Homo sapiens: one gene and its partners. The protein of the gene in region 4 interacts with the protein of the main gene of each other region in a pairwise test. Each region holds a gene or a part of one and is shown on either strand. Other genes may lie near its edges.

The links.
Region 1: the proteins of DLST (region 4) and MYBPHL interact in binary tests that used the Homo sapiens proteins (3 or more experiments, as listed by UniProt).
Region 2: the proteins of DLST (region 4) and GJA5 interact in binary tests that used the Homo sapiens proteins (3 or more experiments, as listed by UniProt).
Region 3: the proteins of DLST (region 4) and TRNAU1AP interact in binary tests that used the Homo sapiens proteins (3 or more experiments, as listed by UniProt).

What each region holds. Positions count from the first base shown.
Region 1 is NC_000001.11:109,297,003-109,304,026, reverse strand, and holds part of MYBPHL (myosin-binding protein H-like), read left to right. Parts: intron 1-5,769; coding exon 5,770-5,858; intron 5,859-6,409; coding exon 6,410-6,605; intron 6,606-6,837; coding exon 6,838-6,977; intron 6,978-7,024. UniProt on the Homo sapiens protein: Myosin-binding protein which plays a role in cardiac function. Seems to regulate conduction in the atria and ventricular conduction systems.
Region 2 is NC_000001.11:147,757,591-147,764,846, reverse strand, and holds the start of GJA5 (gap junction alpha-5 protein), read left to right. Parts: upstream 1-4,244; 5' UTR 4,245-4,348; intron 4,349-5,575; 5' UTR 5,576-5,608; coding exon 5,609-6,685; 3' UTR 6,686-7,256.
Region 3 is NC_000001.11:28,548,733-28,556,107, forward strand, and holds the start of TRNAU1AP (tRNA selenocysteine 1-associated protein 1), read left to right. Parts: upstream 1-4,352; 5' UTR 4,353-4,378; coding exon 4,379-4,405; intron 4,406-4,907; coding exon 4,908-5,005; intron 5,006-7,375. UniProt on the Homo sapiens protein: Involved in the early steps of selenocysteine biosynthesis and tRNA(Sec) charging to the later steps resulting in the cotranslational incorporation of selenocysteine into selenoproteins. Stabilizes the SECISBP2, EEFSEC and tRNA(Sec) complex.
Region 4 is NC_000014.9:74,877,926-74,884,936, reverse strand, and holds the start of DLST (dihydrolipoyllysine-residue succinyltransferase component of 2-oxoglutarate dehydrogenase complex, mitochondrial isoform 1 precursor), read right to left. Parts: upstream 3,022-7,011; 5' UTR 2,984-3,021; coding exon 2,921-2,983; intron 2,347-2,920; coding exon 2,313-2,346; intron 1-2,312. UniProt on the Homo sapiens protein: Dihydrolipoamide succinyltransferase (E2) component of the 2-oxoglutarate dehydrogenase complex. The 2-oxoglutarate dehydrogenase complex catalyzes the overall conversion of 2-oxoglutarate to succinyl-CoA and CO(2).

The DNA of each region.
Region 1 (7,024 bases), on a different chromosome or scaffold from region 4:
TTCAGTGAGGGTCTCACTAATAAGGTGACATTTGAGCAGCAACTTAAAGGATGTGAGAAAGCAATGCATGCAGATATTTGGGGGAATATTTTCCACACAGAGAGAACAACTGCAAGGACCCTGAGGCAGGAGTGTGCTTTATGGGTTGGGGCCATTGTGGCTGTAGCACAGGGAGGGAGACAGTGGCAGTATTTCAGTCTGAGAGGTAGCACGGCCGCTGTGAAGACTTTGGTTTGTCTACGAGACAGCCAGCCAGCCAGTGCAGGGACTGGGAGTAAGGACTGACAGGACCAAGTGTAGATTTTAAGGATTTTTCCAGCTGGCCATGTTAAGAATAGACTGTAGGTGGGCCTTAGACACTAGCAAGATCGACAACTGGGAATGAGAATGAGGGAGAAGGTAGGGAGGTTTTAGAAGAGAAAGGTGTGCGATAGTCACCCAGGACAATGGGAGACCGAGTGAACTTGGGAAGTCTAGTAGAATTGCCAGAGTTCACTTGGAGGTGGTGGTCACTATTAATGGCCCTCAAGTTAAACTCCATATAATTTTGTATTTTCCCCCAGTCCTGTTACTCTGTGCAGATACAGCCACTGAGTGGGTGGGAAGTTTATTTAACAAGGGTTAGGTATTGCCAAGAGAGTGCAATGAAGTCAAAGAGGACTCAGGGATTTGAGTGAGTGCAAGAGAGAGAGTATAATAATGACCGTGCAATCTAAGTTGGGTGGTGAAGAAAGTGCTAACATGAAAGGGGTGCTAGGTAGTGAGAGGGTGGTAGGACAATGGATCACAGATCTCAGTGGTGCCAAAGAATTGCTGGTGTTGGAGCACTGGAGGAAGTGAGCTAAAGGGATAAAGATTATATTAGTTAGGTATACTAGTGAATGAAACAGGTCTCAGGAATGACATACATCTATTTCTCACTAGCGTAAGAACTAAAAACTATTCTGCAGATAGTTCTCCTCCATGTGGTAATCCAAGGACCCAGGCCTCTTTCATCTTGGGGCTCTGCCATTCCTTAGGGCCCGTGATCATCTGTGTACAGCTAGCAGAAGAGGAAAATAGAAATCTAACTTCTTCAAAGCCTGGGACCAGATGTGATTCTCACCATTGCCACTTACGTCTCATTGGCAAAAACTGGTCGCGTAGCCATCCAGCAAAAGGTGGCCGGGCAGCCACTTCTCAGAGATAGCTACGCTACGGAAGGGGTAACATACATTTTTTTTGGCCAGTTAGCCATCTCTGTTATAGAGGTGGTGATGAGACAGTGGGATGCTTGTAATTCTGATCATAGAAGGATTGTAGCTCTTGGTCTAGAGAATGGCCACAGGGACCATTGGCTGAATTAGGAGAGGACAAAGTTATTGGAGGAGTGGTGGGCCAGATGTGAGAGACCCTACGGGGACTGGAAACATGGGTGTTGGGACCAGCAGGAGTTATGCCTGGAGAGGCATACCGCATGGAGAGGGTGTTGGAGAGACAGTGAGCCAGGGCTAAAACCATCAAGCACTAGGGGGACGACTGTAACATAGGGACGGGGTGGGGTGGAGTCTTTTCCTCAGAGAAGTGTTGCCTGTTCCTATGTCCTTTTATTTTTTCTGACCTTAGTTTCATGGCCTTCAAGAAAGTGACACTCTTGTACCACTCCTTTCCCATTGCACTCCTCCAGACAGGTTTCTGAGTAGACCAAGGCCACATCCTAGGCATCTGGTAATGTTTCTCTAAGAAATCCCGGTACTTCTTGGATTTCTGGAAACCTCTGGATAGTTTCAAAGCCATAGCTAGCCTCCTGCATTCGCCCTCTTTTGGTAACCCTTCACCCACATAGGCACGTGTGTATGCAGGCTCCCTCTCTCTCTCACACACACACTCTCATACACACACATACACACACCATTCACAGACACACGTAAACACACCCATACACACATTCATGCACGTACACAAACACACACATTCACACACATACACTCACACACACATACATACACACTCATACAAACACACACACACCCTCTCCACTTCTCCAATGCTTCCATCTTGGTTCTTGGCTCTCCAGGTCATAGTTAGTAACATCGGTCTGAACTATACAGCCCCTAGGGAGCCTCTGGAGAAAGACTGATCCCATAAAAGGGAATTATGAGAGGATAGGAACAATTATAGAATAGTAAAACAGGCATAAACTTTAGCAGGATAAAAGTAGGGTAGGTATTAGGAGGAATTTTCTAATCAGAAGTCAAGATCTTTGGACTTGAAGTAGTTTTCTCTCTTTTTTTTTTTTTCTTTTTGAGATGAAGTTTTGTTCTTATTGCCCAGGCTGGAGCGCAATGGTGCAATCTCGGCTCACTGCAACCTCTGCCTCCCAGGTTCAAGCGATTTTCCTGCCTCAGCCTCCCAAGTAGCTGGGATTACAGGTGCCCGCCACCACACCTGGCTAATTTTTGTATGTTTAGTAGAGATGGGGTTTCACCATGTTGACCAGGCTGGTCTTGAACTTCTGACCTCAGGTGATCCACCCTCCTTAGCCTCCCAAAGTGCTGGGATTACAGGCATGAGCCACTGCGCCCGGCCTGAAGTAGTTTTCTCTAAGAATTTTTTAGAAAGAATTAAACAGCATCCTGTCTGAGAGAAACATTGTACAGAGAGAGCCTAACTCAGAACCAAAGGCCCTCAAAGGACTTTTCAAGATGCCTTTTCTCTAAGACCCCATGAAGGGAGAAAACCAAACTGTGACTCTCACAGACCTGCTCTTAGAAAACCTAGGCTCTTAAAGACTCTAGGCTTTGGTTCACATCCCTCCTGTCATCTAAGGAGGAGAAAGACCTTGGGCATCAGGGGAAGCCATGCCTCCCCAAGGTCAGTACAATTTACACCTCGCTTGACTGCGGATGTGTGAAAAGAGATGCCTCAAATGAGCCCCGGCGTTCACATTCTTAGCAAAGAGTCAGATTGCGCCTGGGTTGGGTTGAGAGGCGATTGGAGAGCATGCTGCTGACCTGCTGACTGGGCATCTGAAGCTGCCACACTCTCTCCTGCCACCTCTGCACGTAGTCAGCTGAGTTAGCCTCACGTCCATACTCTGCCCTCCCACAGGGAGCCGGGAGCCTGCTGGGAGCAGAGGCCTCACCTACACATCCTCAGAGTCCATTCTAGAGACTTAAGTTTCGTCATCTTGTCAGGAAACCCACTGATAAGCAGAGAACCGGCAATGGAGCCGTCCAGGGAGGGAGAGACTGCCGTCCTCGCGGGCAGCCTCCTTCCTTGCTCTCGCGGGCAGCCTCCTTCCTTGCTCTCTGCCCAGCCAGGATCCCCTCTAGATCCAAGGGCCAGTCTGCTCCTCTTCCTCTAACTCCCACACCTTAGCTTATGTTCCACATAAACCCATTTCTTTCATTTTTCTCTTTAGTTCAGGTGTAAGAATGCTAACATTTTCCCAGGTGTTTTTCTAAGAAACAAAAGAAACACTAGGTGGAAACACATACATCAGCTCACAGCTACCCATAACAGCCCATTCCCTACCTGAGGTCTCAGCAGGGCGGGGCTCAGCGGGCACTTCTGTCAGGCATGAAGGCCTGGGTTCCTCTCCCCACCTCAACCCTTTGCAGTTCTTGGGTATGTCTAGCCCCCGCCTTCCCTCTGGGCCTCCTCCCTCCAGGGGCAGGCCACTGTCCAAGCCCTGACTATGGTGCTCATTGCTGGGTGGACACTGGTGGGCAAGACACAGCTAGTGCTCTGAGAATGGGTCCTTCAGACACACAATCTTAGATGGGGAGGCAGGAGTCTCTGGTGCCAGGCACGTCGTCACAGCTAGCCGGGAGGTCTCCAGAATACCGGCTTCTTTCTCGGAGCCCTCTTGCTCCCAGCATCCTTGTTCTGGTGCTTACAGGCCCTTCCTAATGCCGACATTCTGTAGGCAGGCGGCACAGGGACAGCAGAGCCAGCTTCTCTCCAGCCCTCTCCCCAGCAAATGTAGAAAGGGTTATTTCCTCCCCCAACAGTGGGGAACCAAGCCTGACAAGATGAGGTTTTGACCCTCCTTTCCAAGTACGGCCCTCTTTTTCAAAACACTATTAAGTCATATCCGCCCGTCTTCAACTCTTTGGTTGCTTGCCAAGATGGCCACAGGAGAGAAGCCCATCACACAAACGCTTCTTCTGTTCTTCATGTCCCGCCCCTCCCAAGCCACCAGAGCCCAGCCGAGGGCAGCCACAGCAGGGTCACTCAGCCGCCTGCAGCTGCTGCATCTATGCTGAGGCAGTCAAGACCTGAGCAGGGCAGGGAGGACGGGCACTCAGGCCCATCAAGTCCCCTCGTCACATATTCCTGAGGTGCAGTCTAAGACAGGCACAGCCCAGGTGAAAACATAAGCCACACAGCACAGAAGGAAACTGCAGAAACCAAACGGACCGTGTGCACTGTACATTGCCATTGATCTTCATTTGCAAAGGTCTCGCGACCTTGAGATTATCATGGGGAGACTCAGAGTGAAGTTCTCTGGACAATGCTTGCTGATTGAGCTGGAGGAAGGACACAGAAGAAGCTCTGTTTCAGTTGCGTCACTTACATGTTTGTGTTATGTAATGTATGTATTTAAACAGTTCATCTATAAGTAAACATACATATGTCATAGTGAATGCTCAGGGAAGTATTTTCACAGAAGTGTGTGCTATCAAAGAGTCTGGAATCCACTATCGAGCAGTCATGCTGTTTGCCACAGGAATGTACCAGGGGTGAAGTTCTTCCAACTGCCAAGAATGAACTGTGGCAAGAATCCTGGGTTGTTGGGAACTGAAGCACTATCACATTCTACTGAAGATAATATCAGCCAGGCGACTGCCTGTGCCTGAGAAAGGAGGAGACAGCAGCCAGGAAAAGGCCAGAAAATGGTGTCTGTCTCAGCCAGGCCCCCGAGGGAACGCAGGTGGAATGTTTGTGCTTCGGCAGCTGAGACAGTGTGAGGCATCCCAAGAGGAGAGAAATGATACCTGGTCAATCTCCAAACCTACACTCAGCACTTTTCCAAGCATTTCCTGTCTTCATCCTGGAAGCCCATACACATCATCTAATCTCTACTTCTCACTGGGACAGACCTGTGAGATCAAAGGGAAATGAGTGGTGGACCTAATCTGTCCCAGAATCTGTACAAAATGATCCTCTGCAAACTGGAAGAAGACTGTGCAGGCGCCCGGGAGCAGAGTGGCCATGCAGAGGAAGGGACCCAGACACGTGCTCTGTCTGCAGTGACATCAGTGTTGTCTCCGTGGGCGGCTGGGAGGTCAGGGTGTTGACTCTGCCTGCAGAATGGAGAGCATTCTCCTGAGACCCACACCTAACTGGGAGGTCAGGATTGACATGGAAAGTGGCCTTGATAAAAGGAATGGTATTAAGGACAAATGTAGAAAAGGGTGGAAAGACAAACCACACAGACCAGGCTGGTCTGTACACAAACAGAAAAATAAAAATGCCTCCATCAGGATGGAATGCCTCCAGATGATGGAAAGTCAGTACTTGAGAGTTACAAATTAAGAGAACTGTCAGACTCGCACTCCAGTGTTCCTTCTGCTGAGACTTTAATGTTTCCCGGGGTGTTCCTTAAGCCAACCCCTCATCCCCAAATCCCAGCAGGATGATGGGAGCACTCTTCCCCTCCCCTCTAAGAAGGGCTTAATTTGGTGACCGATTCCTGGGCCACTCACCCACAGCAGGCAGCTGGATGCAGGATTTACTTTCTCTGAGTATCCATCTCCTATTCTCTCTCTTTCCATCACTCAGAGCACCCCAAGATCTGGCTACCTCGGGCCCTGAGGCAGACCTACATCCGGAAGGTTGGGGACACAGTGAACCTACTAATCCCATTCCAGGTGATCATGCCAGCCCCATACTGGGTCCATGTCTGGGGCCAGTGCAGGTTTTGGATTTGGAAACAGATACCAAGAGTCCTGCTAGCAGAGGGGCAATCTTCCCAGCCTTGGATAGAAGGGGTCACACCACCAGAAGTCTGAGGCCAAATGACCTCTGCACTCCTGAAGGTGGGTTTGGATAGGACTGGGTGTGCACCCATGAGATGGTGTGAGGCTAATCCATGCCCTTCAGTCTACAGAAGCCTCAGAGCTTGCAGTTAGAAGGGTTCTTGGGAGTTTGAGTGGCTATTCAATTGGTCCCAGCTGCCCCGGGTGTTCATGACCTAAGCTCTCAGAGATTGGGAGACTCAAAGCCATCCCTCTTTCCCAAGATCCTTAGGCTGTTGCTGAAAGGAGGAGGCCCCCGGGAGGGTCCACCAACTTCTAACTCAAGGAATGTGCAGCTCCAAGTCAAGCCTCCCTGTGGACCTGGGGTGGACAGGACCCCTACAGCAGCAGGGAGAGTCAGGAAGCCTCTCGGGGCTGCTCAAAGCATTACCCTCATTCCTCAGGGCAAGCCCAAACCTCAAGCCATCTGGACACATGATGGCTGTGCCTTGGACACCAGGCGTGTGAGTGTGCGGAATGGGGAGCAAGACTCCATCCTCTTCATCCGAGAAGCCCAACGTGCTGACTCAGGTCGCTACCAACTCCGCGTGCAGCTGGGTGGGCTGGAGGCCACCGCCACCATTGACATCCTGGTGATTGGTACGGTGGGGGAAGTGGGAGATGGGGGGGTCCTCAGGAACTCCCTCTCCAGGCTGAAGAGGAGCCAGCTCAGAGAGCTGGGGAAGCTGCGGCAAGGCTCCCACGTCATGTCTGGGACACAGGGTGGGCGCAGGAGGGGTAACTGAGGAGAAAAAGGGGCTAGGGCACTCCTGAAGTGACTTCAATGCATGTGGGATGTTCCACGCCCACTGCCATGGCTTTGCCCTTTCAGAGAGGCCAGGCCCTCCTCAGAGTATTAAGCTGGTGGACGTTTGGGGCTTCAGCGCTACACTGGAATGGACACCGCCCCAAGATACGGGGAATACAGCACTTCTGGGATACACGGTGCAGAAGGCTGACACAAAATCCGGGGTGAGGCCAGCTGGGAAGGAAGGAGGGTGGAAGAGGGCATGTTGGGA
Region 2 (7,256 bases), on a different chromosome or scaffold from region 4:
TAATTTTTTTTTTTTTTTTTTTTGAGACGGAGTCTCACTCTGTTGCCTAGGCTGGAGTGCACTGACGTGATCTCAGCTCATTGCAACCTCCACCGCCCGGATTCAAGCAACTCTCCTGCCTCAGCCTCCTGAGTAGCTGGGATTACAGGTGCCCACCACCACACTGGGCTAATTTTTGAATTTTATTAGAGATGGGGTTTCACCATGTTGGCCAGGCTGGTCTTAAACTCCTGACCTCAGATGATCTGCCCGCCTCGGCCTTCCAAAGTGCTGGAATTACAGGCATGAGCTACCACACCCGGCCGATTTTATTAATTTAATAGACACCATTGAGTGCCCAGTGTGTGTCAGGCCTTGCACCTCTTTGGTACTGTTCTCATTACTCAGAACAGTGGTAGGCACATAAAGGGGACTCAGCAAAGTATCTGCAGGTTGGCTGATAGACAAATGTTTGGAAAACAAGTCTAAGGAAATATATAACCAAGTGTGAGGATGTATCCTCCATGCTGGATGGTAATTAAAATTGCTACCATGTACCAGATGCTCAGTCTTCTGGAGTTCAGGGGACACCAAAGAGGGCTGAGGTCAATTTTAGAAGACTTATCCATTTTGCTGTAGATTTGCGGAGTCAGAGGAAGAGGTTCTGGCTATGAGTTTATGATTAATCTGGGTTGCTCTGAAATGATTTTCTTTGAAAAACACTGGCCGTGTAGGGGGACCACGAGAAGGAGCACTGGGCCGGGCATGGTGGGTCATGCCTGTAATCCCAGCACTTTGGGAGGCCAAGGCGGGAGGATCAACTGAGGTCAGGAATTTGAGACCAGCCTGGCCAACATGGTGAAACCCCTTCTCTACTAAAAATACAAAAACTAACCAGGTGTGGTGGCACACACCTGTAATCCCAGCTACTCCAGAGGCTAAGGCAGGGAGAATTGCTTGAAACTGGGAGGCAGAGGTTGCAGTGAGCTGAGATGGTGCCACTGCACTCCAGCCTGGGTGACAAAGCGAGACTTCATCTCAAAAAAGAAAAAAAGAAGCACTGGATTCAGAATGTAGGTGCCTGAGCTTTATTTCTGGTCATTGGCCATACAGTACATGAAATAAAATCATAAAATGATTCATGCTCACTATACACAAAATCCTTCCTCTGGCCCTCTTCCTCTTATCTAAGCACCATGTTGCTATTGCCAAACAAGTTTCCTAGTGGCCCCTCCAAAATTTGCTTTATCTCAGGATAGGACAAGTTGAAAGAGGATGTTGAAGGTTTGGGAGTGAAGAACCTTTAGAGTTGGGATGGTTCTCTTCCAGGTTCTAGGGACCATCTCTTTTTGCCTTGCTGATTTCAGAACTTGTATCAGTGGCAGAGGGCTTTAGAACGCAATTCCCTAGGACTCTCCCCAAAACCCAAAAACCAGATTCAGGCTCCTGCCCCACATTCCCATGACACCTTATACTTCCTTTATGTTAACACACATTGTGTTTTACTGAAATCATGTATTTAATGTCTGCTGTTAATAAAGGGGTATAAAGGCAGTTACACTCAGTGAAGTCAGGGAATCCCTTGTTTGTTTCCCCTCCTTCCTGCTGTATCCTCATTGTCCAGAATGATGGCTGGCACCCTGTAGCCACTCAATAAACGTATTAAATGAATTTTAAAAAGGACATTCTAGGCAGAGGGAACATAAGAAGCCAAGATAAATGGGTGAGAAATGGTGAGATGCACATAAGTACATGTGAAATTGTGTAGCTTAAGTATTGAGTGTGTGAGTGGAAAAGTGGAAAAATGATAGCATAAGACTGTACAGGGTTTCACATGGCAAGTTAAGCAGTTTGGACTTTCTAAGTGGTAGGAAGCCAGTGAGGATAACTGCTAAAGCAGTGAGGTAAATTGCCATTGTGTTTGATAGCATTTATTCATGGCATGGGCAGCTTCCTTTGCCCCTCCTAATACACTTCCTGCCAAGAAGCAGATAATAATCTACAAAGTATTTTATATGCTATACGCCCAGTAAACTCACTGAGTATCTAATCTACAAATTTCTTTGGCTGAGATGGGGTATCCAAAGGGAGCCAACGTAGCTGGAAAAGTAACTACAGCCAGAGACCTTTCACATTATAAACTGAGCATCTGGTACATGGTAGCTATTTTAAGTTTCTCTGACCTTGCCTGAGCGTCAGCAGGAAGTCATACATGAAAAACCCTTCACCCTATTTCCTCTGCCTGGGCCCAGGAGGTCTGCCTCACCCCTATACCTCCTCAGATAGTTTCTCTTTTTCCCTCCCAATAAGATATCCTTCCTAATACTGCCTTTCTGGTTTTCCAAGGTGTTCCTTTCTTGTATCTGTGCTTTACCTCTTCCAGGTGGAATTCCTTGGACAGCAGTGAAGGAGTCAGCAGTCAAGCCTCTTGGCAGACTAGACCAAAGGGTCACATTCTTTGCCTGGAACTATTTTTATACTTCCTTGGGGACTTGCAAGGAATGAGTGACAGAGTGAGAAGATCAAGGGAGAAGTCTTCAGGGACTGAGTGTGGAAAACTTGCCCCAAATCCTGGAAGAATATGACATTTGTTTCTTTTTTTTTCTATTTCCATTTTCCTCTCATTTCCTCCCCTTCTACTCTTGCTCCCATTTCTTTTCTCCTTTGTAATGCACCTTTCTCTACTTTCTGCTTTCTCTTTTTCCCTCCTTCTTCTACTCTCATCCTTCCCCACTGCTCTTGTTGCTAGTAATGGCTACCTTTTATTCAGTTCTTATTTGCTGAACACTGTGTTAAGTGCTTTGCACGCATCATCTCATAGCACTCTATGAGTTAATAGTATGTCCATTTTGCAGGTGAGGAAAGTGGAACACAGATTGAATCATTTATCTAAGCCCAGCAGATGGTAATAGAAATTTGTCAAACCTCAGTAAGCTAACTCCTGCATCTGTCTTTTCTTAACCCTACATGGTCTTTTTCTCCATTTCCAACTCTCCCTTGTCCTTCCCTTTTCTTCTCTTCTTTTTATTCCTCCCCTTCTCTCCCTCCCTCTTTTTCTCAGACATTTACCATAGTTCAGTCACTGCACGTGTGTGGCTGACCCTGAAGGTGCTGAACACTGTACATGTGCCCAGAAGAGAGGACAGACAATTCAAACTCTTATCTAATCAGCCATTTTCCTTTTGAGCACATGCTCCACAATTTTCCACATTTGGAGGCTGAAAGAGGGGGCGCTTCGCCACCTAAGGAAATGGGGCAGATGTCTGATCACAAATGACAGGAAAGGCCTCAAGACCTGCATGGGTCTTTGATATAGAGAGGAGCAGAGATAAGATGCTTTCCGCTCACTCAGGAACTCCCTCATTCCCAGGGACACTGTATACTCTCAAGTTTGGGGACCTGGGGTCTGAGAGAATACAGGGCCAGGAGGTTGGTCCCTGTCAAGGCAACAATCAACTCAAGAGCTGAGGAAGCCTGGACTATGAAATGCACCACCCTGACCCCATCTTTCCCCATAAGCATGAAGAATGTTCAGACAGAAACCAGGAGCACGTTGGCAGCAAAGATATGACGGTCAAAGTTTGAATTTGACAAACCTCTAAGGACCCACCCAAATCTGAGGTTTATGATTCTAAGAAAGGAATATTTATGCTCCATTCCCTCCGAGACGTTTGTCATCCTGTTGGTTAGGAATGGTTAGAGGCTTAAACTGTAAGAACATTCGTTATTCACTAAGTAAGAATTCTGGAGGTAGGGAGCCTCAAGAGTTGCTTCAGAGGCCTCAGGGCACTGGTTGACATTTCTGAGATTCTCTGGACAGCTTTAGACATCTTGGTTCATACAACTCTGTCCACAGGCAGGAAGCGGTGGGGCTAAGTGAGGCTCACTCCTATTCACCGGGGGATGGGAGCACTGTGAGTAGTCTCCCTCCTGTTCACCAGGGGATGGGAGCACTGTGAGTGAGGTTCCCTCTTGTTCACAGGGGGATGGGAGCACTGTGAGTGAGGCTCTCTCCATTTACTGGGGGGTAGAAAAACCTTTTCTGGAGCATTCCCTCTACTTTAGATTCTCCCCATACCTCACCTACCAGAACTAACTGCAGAGGAGATTAAGAAAGTGATACCTGGCTTTTTCACCCTGCCAATGGGAGGCAGGCAAGAAACAGGGAATTGGTTTTCTATTGGGTAGGAAACAACAGTGCCTGTCAGCCCCTCCTTCATTCACTCAACTAAGATATATTAAACACCTACTCTGGGCCAGGCTCTGGTGATACAGAAGAAAAGACAGTCTCCATTTTCAAACAGTCCCTCCTGGGAGAACACAGACAGGCAGAGGATTACAACACAAGGCAGCAAGCACTGGGAGACGAGTAAGTGTCCCGGGGGCCATCACAGGAGCTGAAGAGGCTCAGCTTGAGGGAGGAGGGAGGGCTGGAGGAGGCAATGACTGGGTTAAGTTTTGAAAGGTAAATGGGATTCAGCTAGGGGTGAGGGGACATGTAGGGGTACAGAAGGAGGGCATTTGGGAAGACTTGGCATGGCTGGACAAAAGGAACTCATGTGGACAGGCAGGAACAGGCTGGAAAAGCAGACAAAGGCCAGATGAGGGAGGATTTTGTAAGGGACATAAAGTTTTGGGACATTTATTCTGGACATAAGGGTGGGCAGATCTGTGTGTGGGAACCTTATTTAAATGAGACACAGAAACTTAGCAGCAGGGCGAGCTGAGCTGTGTGGCTGGAATGGCTGTGTTGCACCGAGGCATGGGAGATCAACATTGCCTTACCAGCCAGGGGAAGTGAGCACTCATCTGTGATACTGTTAGCTGGTGTGACCAAAGCACACTTTTTGTTTGCCACCTCCCAACACAGCTGGTCCATGCTGGATGGTTCTGATTTTTGCAGAGTGCTTCCTGAGGGGCCAAATTTGCCAATCCCATCCTCACTCTTTCCTCCTCCACCTAGTTCTGCCCTCTGGAGCCATAAAAAAATTCCTTTTCCATCCAACAGCCATTTAAACATTTGGAACAGTTGTGGAATGATTTTCAGAATATCACACACCTCATATCATTTAATCCTCAGAATTCTCTGGTGTAGCTATTCCCATCCCCATTCGATAAATGAAGAAACAGACTCAGTGAGGTAAATGCCCAGAGTCACATTTGCAGACCCCAGTCTTGTGTTCTTTTTAATACTCGTGTTTCTCCAGGTGCGGTCCCTCACCGCCTGCATCAGAATTACTTGGGCTGCTTGTTGTAAATCCAGATTCCTGGGGGCCATCCCAGACCTCCTGAAGTAGAATTACTGGGGCAAGAGCAGAATCCATATTGTAACACACACCACGATTTCTAGATCCGTTAAAGTGTGGGAGCCATGCTCTAATTTTGCTAATATGGCTACTTTGAATCTTCTCTTTCTTTTTATTTTTGCTGGGAAAGGAGAGCGAGCTTTTCGTTGGTTGCTTTGACTTCTAAGTTGCATTTTCTTAAAGAACCCATTGGATGGATGGATCAGTGGAATCCCAGAACATGATAGACATTCCAGACCTTCACAGAACATCCTTCTTCTTTTCTCTCTTTCTCTCTCTCCCATTTGCAGAAGTTTTGGCATCTGTTCCCTGGCTGTGCCAAGATGGGCGATTGGAGCTTCCTGGGAAATTTCCTGGAGGAAGTACACAAGCACTCGACCGTGGTAGGCAAGGTCTGGCTCACTGTCCTCTTCATATTCCGTATGCTCGTGCTGGGCACAGCTGCTGAGTCTTCCTGGGGGGATGAGCAGGCTGATTTCCGGTGTGATACGATTCAGCCTGGCTGCCAGAATGTCTGCTACGACCAGGCTTTCCCCATCTCCCACATTCGCTACTGGGTGCTGCAGATCATCTTCGTCTCCACGCCCTCTCTGGTGTACATGGGCCACGCCATGCACACTGTGCGCATGCAGGAGAAGCGCAAGCTACGGGAGGCCGAGAGGGCCAAAGAGGTCCGGGGCTCTGGCTCTTACGAGTACCCGGTGGCAGAGAAGGCAGAACTGTCCTGCTGGGAGGAAGGGAATGGAAGGATTGCCCTCCAGGGCACTCTGCTCAACACCTATGTGTGCAGCATCCTGATCCGCACCACCATGGAGGTGGGCTTCATTGTGGGCCAGTACTTCATCTACGGAATCTTCCTGACCACCCTGCATGTCTGCCGCAGGAGTCCCTGTCCCCACCCGGTCAACTGTTACGTATCCCGGCCCACAGAGAAGAATGTCTTCATTGTCTTTATGCTGGCTGTGGCTGCACTGTCCCTCCTCCTTAGCCTGGCTGAACTCTACCACCTGGGCTGGAAGAAGATCAGACAGCGATTTGTCAAACCGCGGCAGCACATGGCTAAGTGCCAGCTTTCTGGCCCCTCTGTGGGCATAGTCCAGAGCTGCACACCACCCCCCGACTTTAATCAGTGCCTGGAGAATGGCCCTGGGGGAAAATTCTTCAATCCCTTCAGCAATAATATGGCCTCCCAACAAAACACAGACAACCTGGTCACCGAGCAAGTACGAGGTCAGGAGCAGACTCCTGGGGAAGGTTTCATCCAGGTTCGTTATGGCCAGAAGCCTGAGGTGCCCAATGGAGTCTCACCAGGTCACCGCCTTCCCCATGGCTATCATAGTGACAAGCGACGTCTTAGTAAGGCCAGCAGCAAGGCAAGGTCAGATGACCTATCAGTGTGACCCTCCTTTATGGGAGGATCAGGACCAGGTGGGAACAAAGGAGGCTCAGAGAGGAAAGACGTGTCCCTTCTGAACTGATGCTTTCTCACTGTCATCACTGCTTGGCTCCTTTGAGCCCCGGGTCTCAATGACGTTGCTCATTAATTCTAGAAACTATAACCAGGGCTCTGGGATAGTAAGAGAGGTGACAACCCACCCAGACTGCAGTTCCCTCCCCACCCTCTACCCAGTATACGAAGCCTTTCAGATTACTCATGAAACAGGGTAGAGGGAAAGAAGGGAAGCATGGCAAAAGCTGGCCTGGAAGGGATAGCCAGAGGGATAGAATGACTCTCTCTCTACATACCAGCAGCATACCAAATGCGTTCTCTAAGTTCCTACCTCCTTGACCTGATCACCCTCCCTCCTCCAAGGAAGAGCTCAAAGTTCCCAGCCAATAGACAGCATGAATCAAGGAACTTGCATTATATGTGCTCTTGAATCTGTTGTCTCCATGGACCATTCCTCGGAGTAGTGGTGAGATGGCCTTGGGTTGCCCTTGGCTTCTCCTCCCTCTACTCAGCCTTAAAAA
Region 3 (7,375 bases), on a different chromosome or scaffold from region 4:
ATGTATAGACTGGTAGGAAAGGACTTTGGGTGCCCATTAGTCCAGAGGGAGCCCCAGAAAGTGGCCTTAAAACACTTGGAGTGGGTTTCACTGTCAGAGATGCCAATTACTACATACAGAAGAAGCTTTCCATACTGACGACTGGGCACCAAAGTAAGTCAGAGGCCTGGGATACTCCCAGAGTAGGAGCATCTCAAAATTAAACTGTCTGGATTGTCTAGCCATCTAAATTGTGTTTATGACGGCACACTGTGGGCAGGTCACTGTTCTGGGACTAGTCAGAACTCCAGGTGATTTGGAGTAGGGTAGTGGGACTCAAGAAAATAGAGGCCGGGAGCTGTGGCTCACACCTGTAATCCTAGCACTTTGGGAGGCCCAAACAGGTGGTTCACCTGAGGTCAAGAGTTCAAGACCAGCCTGGCCAACATGGTGAAACCCCATCTCTACTAAAAATACAAAAATTAGCTGGGCGTGGTGGCGCCAGCCTGTAATCCTAGCTACTTGGGAGGCTGAGGCAGGAGGATCGCTTGAACCCAGGAGGCAAAGGTTGCAGTGACCAGGATAGCACCACTGCACACCAGCCTGGGCAACAGGAGCAAAACTTCATCTCAAAAATAAATAAATAAATAAATAAAAATAGAGTGACAGAACTTGGGGACTGATTGGTTGCCAGATGACAAGGTTACTCCAATTTACACTCCTTTTAATTCTTCCCACCTCCCACCCCAGGGCCCTATATGGGAATGAAGGAAGAATCCCATTCCGGCTCCAACAAGACTCATGTTTTTCAGACTGGTAAACCTGGAGTGAGGGAATGGCTTGCACAGAGCAGTGGCTTGCCCTGGGTCACAGTGAGACAGTAAGAACAGGGCTTGGCTTCAGCTCACCAAGACTAGAGCAGCAGTTCCCAACCTTTTTTGGCACCAGGGACTGGTTTTGTGGAAGACAATTTCCACGGACAGGGGATGGTTTGGGGATTACTCAAGCGCATTACATTTATTGTGCACTTTATTATTATTAATGTAACGTTGTAATATATAATGAAATGATTATATAACTCACCATAATGTAGAATCAGTGGGAGCCCTGAGCTTGTTTTCCTGCAACTAGACAGTCCCCTCTGGGGTTGTTGGGAGACAGTGACAGATCATCAGGTATTAGATTCTCATAAGGATGCCAGGCATGGTGGCTGACGCCTGTAATCTCAACACTTGGAAAGGCTGAGGCAGATGGATCACCTGAGGACAGGAGTTTGAGACCAGCCTGGCCAACATGGCAAAACCCCGTCTCTATTAAAAATACAAAAAAATTGGTGGGCGTGGTGGCTCACGCCTGTAATGCCAGCACTTTGGGAGGCTGAGGTGGGTGGATCACGAGGTCAGGAGATTGAGATCATCCTGGCTAATACGGTGAAACCCCGTCTCTACTAAAAATACAAAAAAACTAGCCAGGCATGGTAGTGGGCGCCTGTAGTCCCAGCTACTTGGGAGGCTGAGGCAGGAGACTGGCATGAACCTGGGAGGCGGAGCTTGCAGTGAGCTGAGATCACACCACTGCACTCCAGCCAGGGCGAGAGCGAGACTCTGTCTCAAAAGAAAAAACAAAAACCCACACCACCATACCCACTAACTCTGAGGCTTTAGTCATATAAAGAAAAATAGCCATTATATATTGTTCTTTTGTGCTCTTATAATGTGTAACCATGCCCTTTAATTAAAGAATTCCAGGATCTACAAAAAAAAAAGAAAGCAGAAAAAAGAAGCCAGGCGTGGTGGCTCACGCCTGTAATCCCAGCACTTTGGGAGGCCACAGTGGGGGGATCATGAGGTCAGGAGTTCTAGACCAGCCTGGCCAACATAGTGAAACCCTGCCTCTTCTAAAAATAAAAAAAAAAAAAAAAAAAAAAAAAAACTAGCCAGGCATGGTGGCAGGTGGCTGTAATCCGTCTCAAACAAAAAAAAAAAAAAAAAAAAAAAAAGAAAGAAAAGAAAAAAGAGGCTGGGCGCTGTGGCTCACACCTATAATCCCAGCACTTTGGGAGGCCAAGGCAGGAGGATCGCTTGAGCCTAGGAGTCCAAAATGAGCTTGGCCAACATAGTGAGCTCTCCTCTCTGCAAAAAAAAAAAAATTAGCCAGCTGTGGGGGTGCACACCTGTAGTGCCAGCTACTCTGGAGGCTGAGGCAGGAGGATCACTTGAGTCCGGGAGTTTGAGGCTGCAATAAGCCAAGATTGTGCCAATGCGCTCCAGCCTGGGCGACAGAGAGAGACCCTCTCTCAGAATGACTGACCAACTGAATAAATAAATAAATAAATAAAATAAAAATAATTCTAGGATCTGGCCTTAGGAGATCCAAATTATCCAACCAAGGTTGTGGAATGTCTCATCTCAGGAAGAAATGCTGAAAACTTCATTTACAGCCTTGTTGCTGACAGCCAAACTACCAGGTAGCCCAGTACTAAAGATAATCATTGGCTGGGCGCGATGGGTGGCTCACGCCTGTAATCCCAGCACTTTGGGAGGCCGAGGTGGGTGGATCACCTCAGGTCAGGAGTTCGAGACCAGCCTGACCAACATGGTGAAACCCCGTCTCTACTGAAAATACAAAAATTAGCTGTGCCTGGTGGTGGGCGCCTGTAATCCCAGCTACTCAGGAGGTGAAGCAGGAGAATAGCTAGAACCCAGGAGGCTAGATTCTAGCTATTCTGAGCCGAGATTGTGCCATTGCACTCCAGCCTGGGCGACAAAGGAAGACTCCGTCTCAAAAAAAAAAAAAAAGATAATCATTACAACAGGATATGCTGACCTTCATACCCCACCCTCATGAGCTTTGTCCTGCCCAGCCTGTAAACCCTACACTTGATATCACTTTCCGTGCTTTGCCCAATAAAACATCTCAACCAGCTCTTTTCGGAGAGTCAGGGAATTCTCGCTCTCTTGTGCTGCCTCCCTTATACCCAGGCATAAGCTCCAATGAAGACTTGTCTGGGAAAACTTTTTTGGCCTCATGTTAATTTCTGTTGGATTGAGAGCCTAAGAACCCCTGGTAACAATAGGGAGGTAGTGGAACCGGGTTGTCCGGAGGGATATTTTCACTTTTTTGGATGCACTTGTATCTGCAGTTTTTTACAACGAGCATATATTAATGTTGTAATTATGTGTGTGTTTGTGTGTGTGTGTACGTGTGTATGTTTTTTGTTTTTTGTTTTTTTTTTAATTTGAGACAGAGTCTCACTCTGTCGCCCAGGCTGGAGTGCAGTGGCGCGATCTCGGCTCACTGCAGCCTCTGCCTCCCGGGTTCAAGTGATTATCCTGTCTCAGCCACCTGAGTAGCTGGGACTACAAGTGCACACCATCATACCCGGCTAATTTCTGTATTTTTAGTAGAGACGGGGTTTCACCATGTTGGCCAGGATGGTCTCGATCTCCTGACCTCGTGATCTGCCCACCTCGGCCTCCCAAAGTGTTGGGATTACAGGCGTGAGCCACCGCGCCCGGCCTTGTTTGTTTTCTAAATATGTAAAGTCAGAAATTAACCCAAGTAACGAGCATACATATATATGTGTGTGTGTGTGTGTATATATGTATATATATGTGTATGTGTGTATATATGTGTATATGTGTATTATGTGTGTATATGTGTATATATGTGTATATATATGTGTATGTGTGTGTGTGTGTGTATGTATATATATGGAGTCTTGCTCTGTCACCAGGCTGCGGTGCAATGGCGCTATCTCGGCTCACTGCAACTTCTGCCCCCTGGGTTTAAGCGATTCTCCTGCCTCAGTCTCCCGAGTAGCTGCGACTACCAGCGCTCGCCACCACGCCCGCTAATTTTCGTACTTTTAGTAGAGAGGGGGTTTCCCCCTGTTGGCGAGGATGGTCTCGATTTCTTCACCTCGTGATCCGCCCGCCTCGGCCTCCTCAAGTGCTGGGATTACAGGCGTGAGCCACCGTGCCCAGCCCTAACGAGCATATATTAATGTTGTAATTATATGTGTCTGTGTGTGTGTGGTTTTGTTTTCTATATAAAGTCAGACGAGTGTGTGTGTGTAGTTTTGTTTGTTTTCTAAATATATAAAGTCAGAAATAAACCCAAGTAACCCAGCCGCCTGGGCCAGGTGGTATCTGGCCCGCCCCATTCCAGCCTGAACTCCGCCCACCGCGATCCGGAAGCCTAGCGCCCAGTGGGTTGCAGGAAAAACCCGGAGCTGAACACACTGCCCGACCCGGGCCGCTGCGCTCGGGAGCCTGCGCAGAAGCCGTCGGAGGCGCATGCTCTGTAGCGGTCTCCGCAGCCAGGATTGGCGCCCGCGCGGGCCTTCGAGCCCCGCCCGCAGAGCCCCGCCCGCAAAGCCCCACCCCGGTGCGCGGGTATGGCGGCCAGCCTGTGGATGGGCGACGTGAGTGAGGGCAGCCGTCCGGGGTCTGAAGACAAGGAAGCATCTCGGTTTCGCGAGAGAGGAAGGATCTGAGTGGGAGGGGACTTGGGATCCCAGAAAGGGGAGACGTGTGACGGGGGTTCTTTTTGGTGACACAGAAGCGGGTTCCAGCATCTAAGTGAAGAGGCTGAGTCCGTGAGGCTAGGGGTCCTGGGGCCCCACCTGGGTTCGTGGGAGGGAAAGGTGGTGCTTTGGGGACATAGAATGGGAGCAATCCAAGGACTGAGGCGCGCTGTTCTGGGACCGGAGGAGTGGGGTTTCTAGGTCCAAGGGGAGGCTCCCTAAAGCGGGGCAAGCTTGAACCAAAAGAGCTGGGGTTTCAGGCCGCTCAGTGGAGGCGAACCTCGCCCCTCGCTCCCCCAGCGGCGCGTAGCCAGCCCTGGGCTGAACGGGAGGGGCTCTGGAACCCGGAGTGGGAAGCCCGGCCGCCGGCCTGAGCCGCTGTGCTCTTGTTTTTACGCAGCTGGAACCCTACATGGATGAGAACTTCATCTCCAGAGCCTTTGCCACCATGGGGGAGACCGTAATGAGCGTCAAAATTATCCGAAACCGCCTCACTGGGTAAGTCTCATCTCAGGTCTCTCTTAATACATCTCGTTGCAGCTGTCATGTACGAGAATGTAAACATCGTAGTCATGGCTTCTCACTACCCCTAGTAATAGTCACTGTAAAATTATAACAGCTAACATTTTGAGGTCCCAATGAGTGGAAGGATGGCATGTAGCTTAAGGGTAGGACTTGCCAGGCGTTGTGACTCACACCTGTAATCCCAGCACTTTGGGAGGCTGAGGTGGGTGGATCACCTGAGGTCAGGAGTTTGAGACCAGCCTGGCCAACATGGTGAAACCCCGTCTCTACTAAAAATACAAAAATTAGCCGGGTGTGGTGGCAGGCACCTGTAACCCCAGCTACTCCGGAGGCTGAGGCATGAGAATCACTTGAACCCGGGAGGCGAAGGTTGCAGTGAGCTGAGATCGTGCCACTGTACTTCAGCTTGGACAACAAGAGCAAAACAATGTCTCAAAAAAAAAAAAAACAAAAAAACAAAAAACGCAGGACTCAAGCGAGACTGGGTTTGAAAGCTATTTCTACTCTATGACCTTGGGTAAGTTACTTAACTGCTCTGTCTCATTCACTTTGAGTATAAAAATGGAAATAACAGCACCTACCTCCTAGAGTTATGGTGAGGATTAAATGAGTTAATTCACATTCATCATTAGGACAGTGTATGGCATATAGCATATGCTCAGTAAGTATAGTCAGATTACGATCTGCTGAGTAATAAGCAGTTTACATCCATTATCTCCTTAAAACCTCAGAAACTTCTGAGGTAGGTAAATACTATTATGAAGAGGCTTAATAACTTGAAGAGTTACAATAAATAGCCGGGCGCAGTGGCTCTCGCCTGTAATCCTAGCACTTTGGGAGGCCGAGGCAGGCCGGATCACGAGGTCAGGAGATTGAGACCATCCTGGCTAACACGGTGAAACCCCATCTCTACTAAAAATACAAAAAAAATTAGCTGGGCATGGTGGCGGGCACTTGTAGTCTCAGCTACTTGGGGGGCTGAGGCAGGAGAATGGCGTGAACCCAGGAGGCGGAGCTTGCAGTGAGCCGAGATCGCTCCACTCCACTCCAGCCTGGGCGACAGCTGAGACTCTGTCTCAAAAAAAAAAAAAAAGAGTTATAATAAATAACAAGTCAGGACTTGAATTCGAGTCTATCCTGAAAGCTCATGAGGGCCCTTAACTCTTATGCCATTCATTTAAAAAATTGTGGAGGATGGGTGCGGTGCCTCATGCCTGTAATCCCAGCACTTCGGGAGGCGAGAAGGGTGGATCACCTGAGGTCAGGAGTTGGAGACCAGCCTGACCAACATGGAGAAACCCTGTCTCTACCAAAAATTAGCCAGGCGTGGTGGTGCATGCCTGTAATCCCAGCTACCTGGGAGGCTGAGGCAGGAGAATCGCTTGAACTTGGGAGGCAGAGGTTGTAGTGAGCCGAGATCGCGCCATTGCACTCCAGCCTGGGCAATAAGAGCGAAACTCCATCTCAAAAAAAAAAAAAAAATTATCTGTGGAGATACTACTGTGTTCTACTGTTATACATTCCTGGCTGAAATAATCCAGATATAGCCCCTGCTCATGGAGTTTACTACATTCTAGTGGGGAATGAGACAATAAATAAGTAAACATAACCAAATGCGTATTTTCAGATAGAGGTTCTCTATTGCCTCCATGTTCTTCTTTCTCTTTGAGGTCTTAGTTTTCCTTAGGGAATTATCAATTTGTCAGTGTTTATCAAGCAGCTACTCTTTTCCTTTTTTTTTTTTTTTTGAGACGGAGTCTCGCTCTGTCACTACCCAGGTTGGAGTGCAGTGGCGCGATCTTGGCTCACTGAAAGCTCCGCCTCCTGGGTTCACGCCATTCTCCAAGCAGCCACTCTTTTCTCGGTACTCTACTACATGTGGCTTGCTAAAACATCAAATGGTTTAAAAATAGAGATGAGACATTTGAAAGATACTTTGTGTATTCAGAACCCCATTACCTAGGAAAAGGTTTTTCTGACTGGTAGATCGTGCCCACCTAAATATTTCTCTTCTTGCTCTTCTAAGCAGAAAACCCCAGATAATCAGCTACTGGTATGAAAATTCATTCTGTAACCTTTCTCATTTTTTTTTCTTTTTTTTTTTTTTGAGACGGAGTCTTGCTCTGTGGCCCAGGCTGGTGTGCAGTGGCACGATCTCGGCTCACTGCAAGCTCCACCTCCTGGGTTCAAGCCATTCTCCTGCCTCAGCCTCCCAAGTAGCTGGGACTACAGGCGCCCGCCACCACGCCAGGCTAATTTTTTGTATTTTTAGTAGAGATGGGGTTTCACCATGTTAGCCAGATGGTCTCAATCTCATGACCTCGTGATCCGCCTGCCTTGGCC
Region 4 (7,011 bases):
CCTTATCATAGTTAACTGCATTTCCCCAACTGATGACTAGTAACTACAGCTGCCTCTTCTGAATTCTTTCTTATGTCTTTTTTCTTTCAGATTAACAACTCTTTCTGAACCATGGGCTCAGGACACACCAAATGAGAGCTAGCCCTCTCTTATGCCCACCTCCTCACAAGCATCCCAAGATAGGTAAGCCAGTCACCTTTATGTCCAGCAGCCAATGACTATGCAGTGCAAATTCTAAGCATAGTATGTTTTTGAACTAGAATAGATGGCGGCTCACACTGATTTTGGGAACCTGGAGTCCAATTCAGAGTTCATCCTACAGCAAATTTCATTTGTACAGTGCTTTAGGGTTTATAAAAAGCTTTCCCATAATGACCTCATTTTGATTTTACAGTCTCACAACTCTCTGAAGTGGAACGACCATCTGCCATTATTCCCATTTCATATAAGTAGGACTTTTGGAGGTTAAGCGACTAGCCCAAGGTGAATCCCTGAGCCCAAATGCAAATCCCCAAGTGCAAGGCTCTTTCCATTGTCCTGCCCACCTATGAAGTGGAGAAAATGTTTACTGACATTGTTCAGGGTTCCCACTTGAAAAACATGTTTGTTATTGAGAGTCCACTACAAGCCGACATTGTGCTAGGGGCTTTATGTTCTCATAACTCTCAGGATAAAGTCCACACTTTACGCGATCCTGTACCGTCCAGCCCACTCTATCTTTCCTGCCAGACAGGCTTCTTCCCATGTCTATCACTGGTCAAGTCCTTTCCTGTCTGAAAACCTTTGCACAAGCAATTCCCTTTGCCTGGAATACATTTTCTTGGCTCTTTTATATTCAGGTCTCAGTTAAATGTCACTTCTTCAGGGAAGCCTTTACTGACATTCCCAACCTTCCCAAGCTGGTCTACATCATCCCACCCTCTCATCACACCCTTTAATTCCTCTCTCGTAGTAACCAAAATTTATGCCCTTGTCGGAGCATAAATGTATATTTGCTCTCTCTCTCCAGCTAGCCCATAAAATCTCGAGGCTAGAGTCTATCTATACCCCTGTTACCTAGAACAGTGGCTGGCATATAGTAAGCACTCAATAAATGATCTGTTGAGTCCATGAGTAAATGAGAACATGGTGGGTTAAGAGTTCAGGATGGGTCAGGTAGACCTGGCTTATCAACAGCTGGGTGGGTGACCATGGCCAAGGCTTTTAAGCTCTCTTGTCTTGGGTTATGCATTTGTAAAATAGAGAAAATACTTTTTACTGTTTTGAGATGATTAACTAAAAAATTCACAGAAAGCACTCATATAAATGCTTGGCACAAAGAAAGCCCACAACAAGGTCAACTCATTCAACAAATACTTAGGCTAGGCATATAACAGAAAAAAAGCTATGGATGACACTTTTTTCTTTTTAACTGCTAGGATAAAATCTAAACTCCTTCAGTCTCTATACCATCTTCTATCTCTTGCCACTCTCTCCCTTAACCAAAATACTCCGGCCAAATCACCTTTTTTCCAGCTCTTAAGTTCTGCCAACCTCTTTTCTTCCTCAGGGTCTTTGTGAATGCCATTCTCTTTCTCCTGGGCTTCACTGGGTTAGCTCCGTCACATTCTGCTAGCCATAACTTTTTTTTTTTTTTTTTTTTGAGATGGAGTCTCGCTCTGTCGCCCAGGCTGGAGTGCAGTGGCGCGAACTCGGCTCACTGCAAGCTCCGCCTCCCGGCTTCACGCCATTCTCGTGCCTCAGCCTCCCGAGGAGCTGGGACTACAGGCGCCTGCCACCACGCCCGGCTAATTTTTTGTATTTTTTAGTAGAGATGGGGTTTCACCGTGTTAACCAGGATGGTCTCGATCTCCTGACCTCGTGATCCGCCCGCCTCAGCCTCCCAGAGTGCTGGGATTACAGGCGTCAGCCACCGCGCCCGGCCATGGCCATAACTTTTAAGTCACCTCCTCAAAAAGGGCTCTTCTGTCCACCCTCGTTTCCTTCTCAGCAGTTACAAAAATTTGCCTTTGTTGGCTTGTTTAGCAACTGACACTATCCAACTAGCCTAGGAGCTCCACGAGGGCAAGAACTGTACACTTCTGTATCCACTCCTGTATCCCTAGCGTCTAGCACAGTGCCTAACACAGTAGAAACTCAACTACGAGCTAAATGAATAAGCGATAGCTCGTGATTATGTAGCATTGCGTCTCACTACTCTCTGAACCAAACTGTCTTTAAATATTATGAGAAACACAGGCACCCCCGAGTTCCTCACATACTGCTCTGCCCAGGAGGAGAGCATTTTAGGTGACGGTAAGGGCAGAACTTACCAGGCAGGGAACGTCTCCCTAGAGGGCAGTTCCCCTGTTGAGAAAGAAGACATTATCGACGTCACCCAAGATGAAAAAAAAACCCAGCTTTTTCTTTTAAGTACACGCTCAAAGCTGTCCCAGTGGTGGTGACAGGTGAATCTCGTAACTCCGAAGGTAAATGCAACACACCGTGCTGGCAGACCCAATCAACACGCTGGGCCTGCCAAACTATCTCAACTTCCCAACGGGACTCATTAATACCCACTGATTTTAACAGAGCAAGACGAGACGGGCGCCGAATCCCGCCGGAGGACTCCGCCGCGCCTCCTCCCTAACTCTGAGTCAAGTATCTGGACGGGCGCGGCTCCCCAGCTCCCGCGCGGAGGGTGGGGTACAGCAGGAAACGTTCCCCGCAGGCTGCCTGGAGAAGGCAGGGGGCCGCTGGGCTCCGCAAAACGGTCCCGAGGGCAACCACGGCCCCGGGCCGCCCAGCCCGCGCGGCCTCCGCGTCCCAGTGCCCTTGGTGCCCGGCCCGGCCGGCGCGCCGCGCCCCTGCCTTCCAGGCCGCCTCTCTGCCCGCCAACAGACTCCTCACCCGTCGGGGCCCCGGCTCGGCCAGACCGTACCTTCTGGAAGGCGGAGAGCGAGCGGCTGAACGCCCGAGACACACAGCGGGATCGGGACAGCATCACGGCGGAGGAGCCGAGGGCGGGCGGACACCGGATATAGGGCCGGACAACAACCGGAAGTGGGGCGGGCCGCAGTACCCGCCGCCCGACGAGGGGTGTTCGGAGCGAACCACTGGCAGGGGGTGGGCGCACGGCGGCGCCCAGTATCCCGGCTGCAGCGCAGGAGTCCCGCTCTCTGGAGCAGGCAACCCTAAGGCGCTCTTGGGGCCCTCCGCACTGCCTGTCAGCCTGAGGTGGTTCTCCTGAAGGTGTATACGACTGTCCCGCCACCACATTGCCCCCGGGGTCAGGCCTTCCCCTACCCTTCCACAGAACTGGCTCTGAGCTTGGCGCCCTTCTCTCTTGGGACCCGAGGGCACCGCGCCGTTCCGCCTCTGTACCTTGGGAAGAGAGCAAAAGAGGGGCACGGACATTGAACTGAAACCTTGGCAGACATGCATGCCTGATCTTACACTTGTGTGGCCTGGGGCAGATGACATTGCCCCCCACCCCCAGTCTCAGGTCCCTTAACTATTAAAAAAAAAAAAAAAGGCACTTGTTACTTCCCTGTCTTCCTAACCCCGAGTCAAAGAAACAGAATCCCAGGAATTTCTAAATCCCATTGCCTTTTTACGAGTCGGATATCTTCACCAACTATAGCCTTATTTCTCAACAGCTTCTGATCTCCCCCCAACGCAAATTCCAGCCAAACTAATTGTTCCCCATACATCTTGTGCATTTTGGAAGTTGTTCGTTTGTCACCCTATCCCTAGAATATAAACTCCCAGCTGTTTTTTTAAGAAACAAGGTCATAGTTCACTGGAGCCTCGACACTCTGGGCTCAAGCGATCCCTCTGCCTCAGCCTCTGGAGTAGCTGGGACTACAGGTGCCACCATGCCAGGCTGACCTCCCCACTTTGAGTGTGCCATTCTTCCCGCTGACTTGAAGTGAAAGCATATAGCATCCCCTTCCCCTCCTTAAGTATTCAGGCCCCTTGAGTATTCACCTTTAAGGCTCACCTTCCTAATGAAAAAGATGTGCTTTAAACCTCTGGCTGAATTAGTAACACATAAATGTATGAATGAATGAATGAACCACTTGGTGCCGTTCATGATGATTTCTTTATCTGAGGCATTTTGCCTGGCCCTCAGGACCTTTATTTTTTATTTTTCTAATTAATTTATGTTTTAATATAAATTGAGACGGGGTCTCACTATGTTGCCCAGGCTGGCCTCAAATTCCATCAGGACCTTTACAGTGCCTTCACTCACCTGAACCCTGAAAGCACTGCCACTGAAATTCTGGAAGGATGGGCCAAAGTCCTAACTAGAAATAGAGAAAACAGCTCTGCCCTGCTGCTACCCACAATTAACTCCTCAGTAGCTTTCACCTGAATTATTTGAAAAGCTCCCTAAGCAGTTCTAAGCCTCCGCTCTCGCTTTCTCTAGCCCATCATCCTTTATATCTGTGTCAAAGATCCTTCTGAGCCTGGTGTGGTAGCTCACGCCTGTAATCCCATCACTTTGGGAGGATGAGGTGGGTGGATCACTTGAGATCAGGAGTTCAAGACCAGCCTGGCCAACATGGTGAAACCCCATCTCTACTAAAAATACAGAAATTAGCTGGGTGTGGTAGTGAATGCCTGTAATCCCAGCTACTCGGGAGGCTGAGGCAAGAGAATTGCTTGAACCCAGGAGATGGAGGTTGCAGTGAGCCAAGATTGCACCACTGCACTCCAGCCTGAGCAACAGAGTGAGACTTCGTCTCAAAAAAAAAAAAAAAAAGAAAGTAAAGAAAAAAAAGAAATCCTTCTGAAATGCAAACCTAATCCTGTCACTCCTCTGATTAAAGTCTTTCATTGCTTCTCCTGGTCGGATAAAGCAAGGGAGATAAAGTTTATCTCCCTTGTAGGATAAAGTACAAACTCCTCAACTTGGCCAGGCACCTGATAATCAGGCCTCTGATTATGTTCTGATTCTCTCCCCACATTCTCACAGATTGTGAGCTTTAGTCAAACCACACTACTGGCCATAGCCTTGCTGAGCTATTTGCATGGGCTGTTTCCTCCTCCTATTTGCCTAGGAACTCCTAGTCATCCTTTAAATCTCCTTCTTAATCCCTTCCTAACCCCTCTGGCAGAGTTAACAGATACATTTTCTATGCTTCCAAAGCACTGTGTCTGGGTTTCTACATTGCATTTTATTGTAATGTCCTGTTTACCTGTCTGTCTCCCATGCTGCATAGAGCAGCAGGTGGAAAGAGACCACTCTCTATTTTCCTGAATTTTCCAAACACAACACCTGGGACATCAGAGTTCCTGGGACTCTGTAGGTACTCAATAAATATTTGTGGAATGACTAAATACTTCCATGTTTACAACATTGGTGGACACAGCTGAAGAATCCAAGAACGGTAGTCAGGGGCTATGGCAATTTCTTGCCAGTGTTGCTGTTAATATTTTTCTTAGATAGCTACCCAGTCCTTTCACGGTCTTTTTTTTTTTTTTTTTTTTTTTTTTTTTTTGAGATAGAGTCTTGCTCAGCTGCCCAGGCTGGAGTGCAGTGGCATGATCTCATCTTGGCTCACTGCAACCTCTGCCACTCGGGTTCAAGTGATTCTCCTGCCCCAGCCTCCCGAGTAGCTGGGACTGCAGGTGCGTGCCACCATGCCCAGCTAATTTCTGTATTTTTAGTAGAGACGGGGTGTCAGACAGGGTGTCACTGTATTTTTAGTAGAGACAGGGTGTTGGCCAGGATGGTCTCAAAATCTTGACCTCATGATCCGCCTGCCTTGGCCTCCCAAAGTGCTGGGATTACAGGCTTTCACAGTCTTTAACAATTTTTGAGATTCTTATAGAAGGTGTAGAGGCTTCAGGCTGGGCACGGTGGCTCACGCCTGTAATCCCAGCATTTTAGGAGGCTGAGGCAGGCGGATCACGAGGTCAAGAGATCAAGACCATCCTGGTTAACACGGTGAAACCCCGTCTCTACTAAAAATACAAAAAATTAGCCGGGCCTGGTGGCGGGTGCCTGTAGTCCCAGCTACTAGGGAGGCTGAGGCAGGAGAATGGCGTGAACCCGGGAGGTAGAGCTTGCAGTGAGCTGAGATCATGTCACTGCACTCCAGCCTGGGTGACAGAGCTAGACTCCGTCTCAAAAAAAAAAAGATGTAGAGGCTTCAAGACTTCAAGCCTGGTTATAATGTGGCAAAGCACTTCTGGAGTTTTAGTGATCACCCAAGTTAATCTTAGATATTACAGTCTAAAGACACCACACACACACACACACACACACACACACACACACTCGAGCATGGTTTCATACAAAATCCCATTGAGAGGGTAAAAGTTGAAATTGATTTCCTCGAGATTCACATACGAGCTTCCATGGACTCCAAGCTGCAACCCAATAAGCTAGGGCACTCCTTCATTTAGAGCTTCCCAAGACACAGCACCATCTACTGGGGCAAGAGTTTATGAATATAAATTGTGGCAGGGCTCAAAAGAGAATTTTTTTTTTTTTTTTGAGTGGAATCTCACTCTGTTGCCAGGCTGGAGTGCAGTGGCATGATCTTGGCTCACTGCAACCTCTGCCTCCTGGGTTCAAGCGATTCTCCTGCCTCAGCCTCATGAGTAGCTGGGACTACAGGCGCCCACCACCATGCCCGGCTAATTTCTGTATTTTTAATAGAGACAGGGTTTCACCATGTCGGCCAGGATGGTCTCGATCTCTTGACGTAGTGACCCCTCCACCTTGGCCTCCCAAAGTGTTGGGCTTACAGGCGTGATCCACTGTACCCGGCCCAAAAGATAATTTTTAAAAACATTTTCATTGTAAAATACGTATTAAAAAGGATATAAAAATCTATGTGTCCAGTTTAAAAGAAAAATAATAAAAGGAATTCCCATACTTGCTGCCCAGCTGAAGGAATGGAAAAGTTCCCTGTGGTCTCCTCCATCATCACACCCAGTTAGCCACTACTATACTGAATTATATATTAACCATCCCCTTGTTTTCATTATAGCTTCAATATGCTTATGTTCTATACA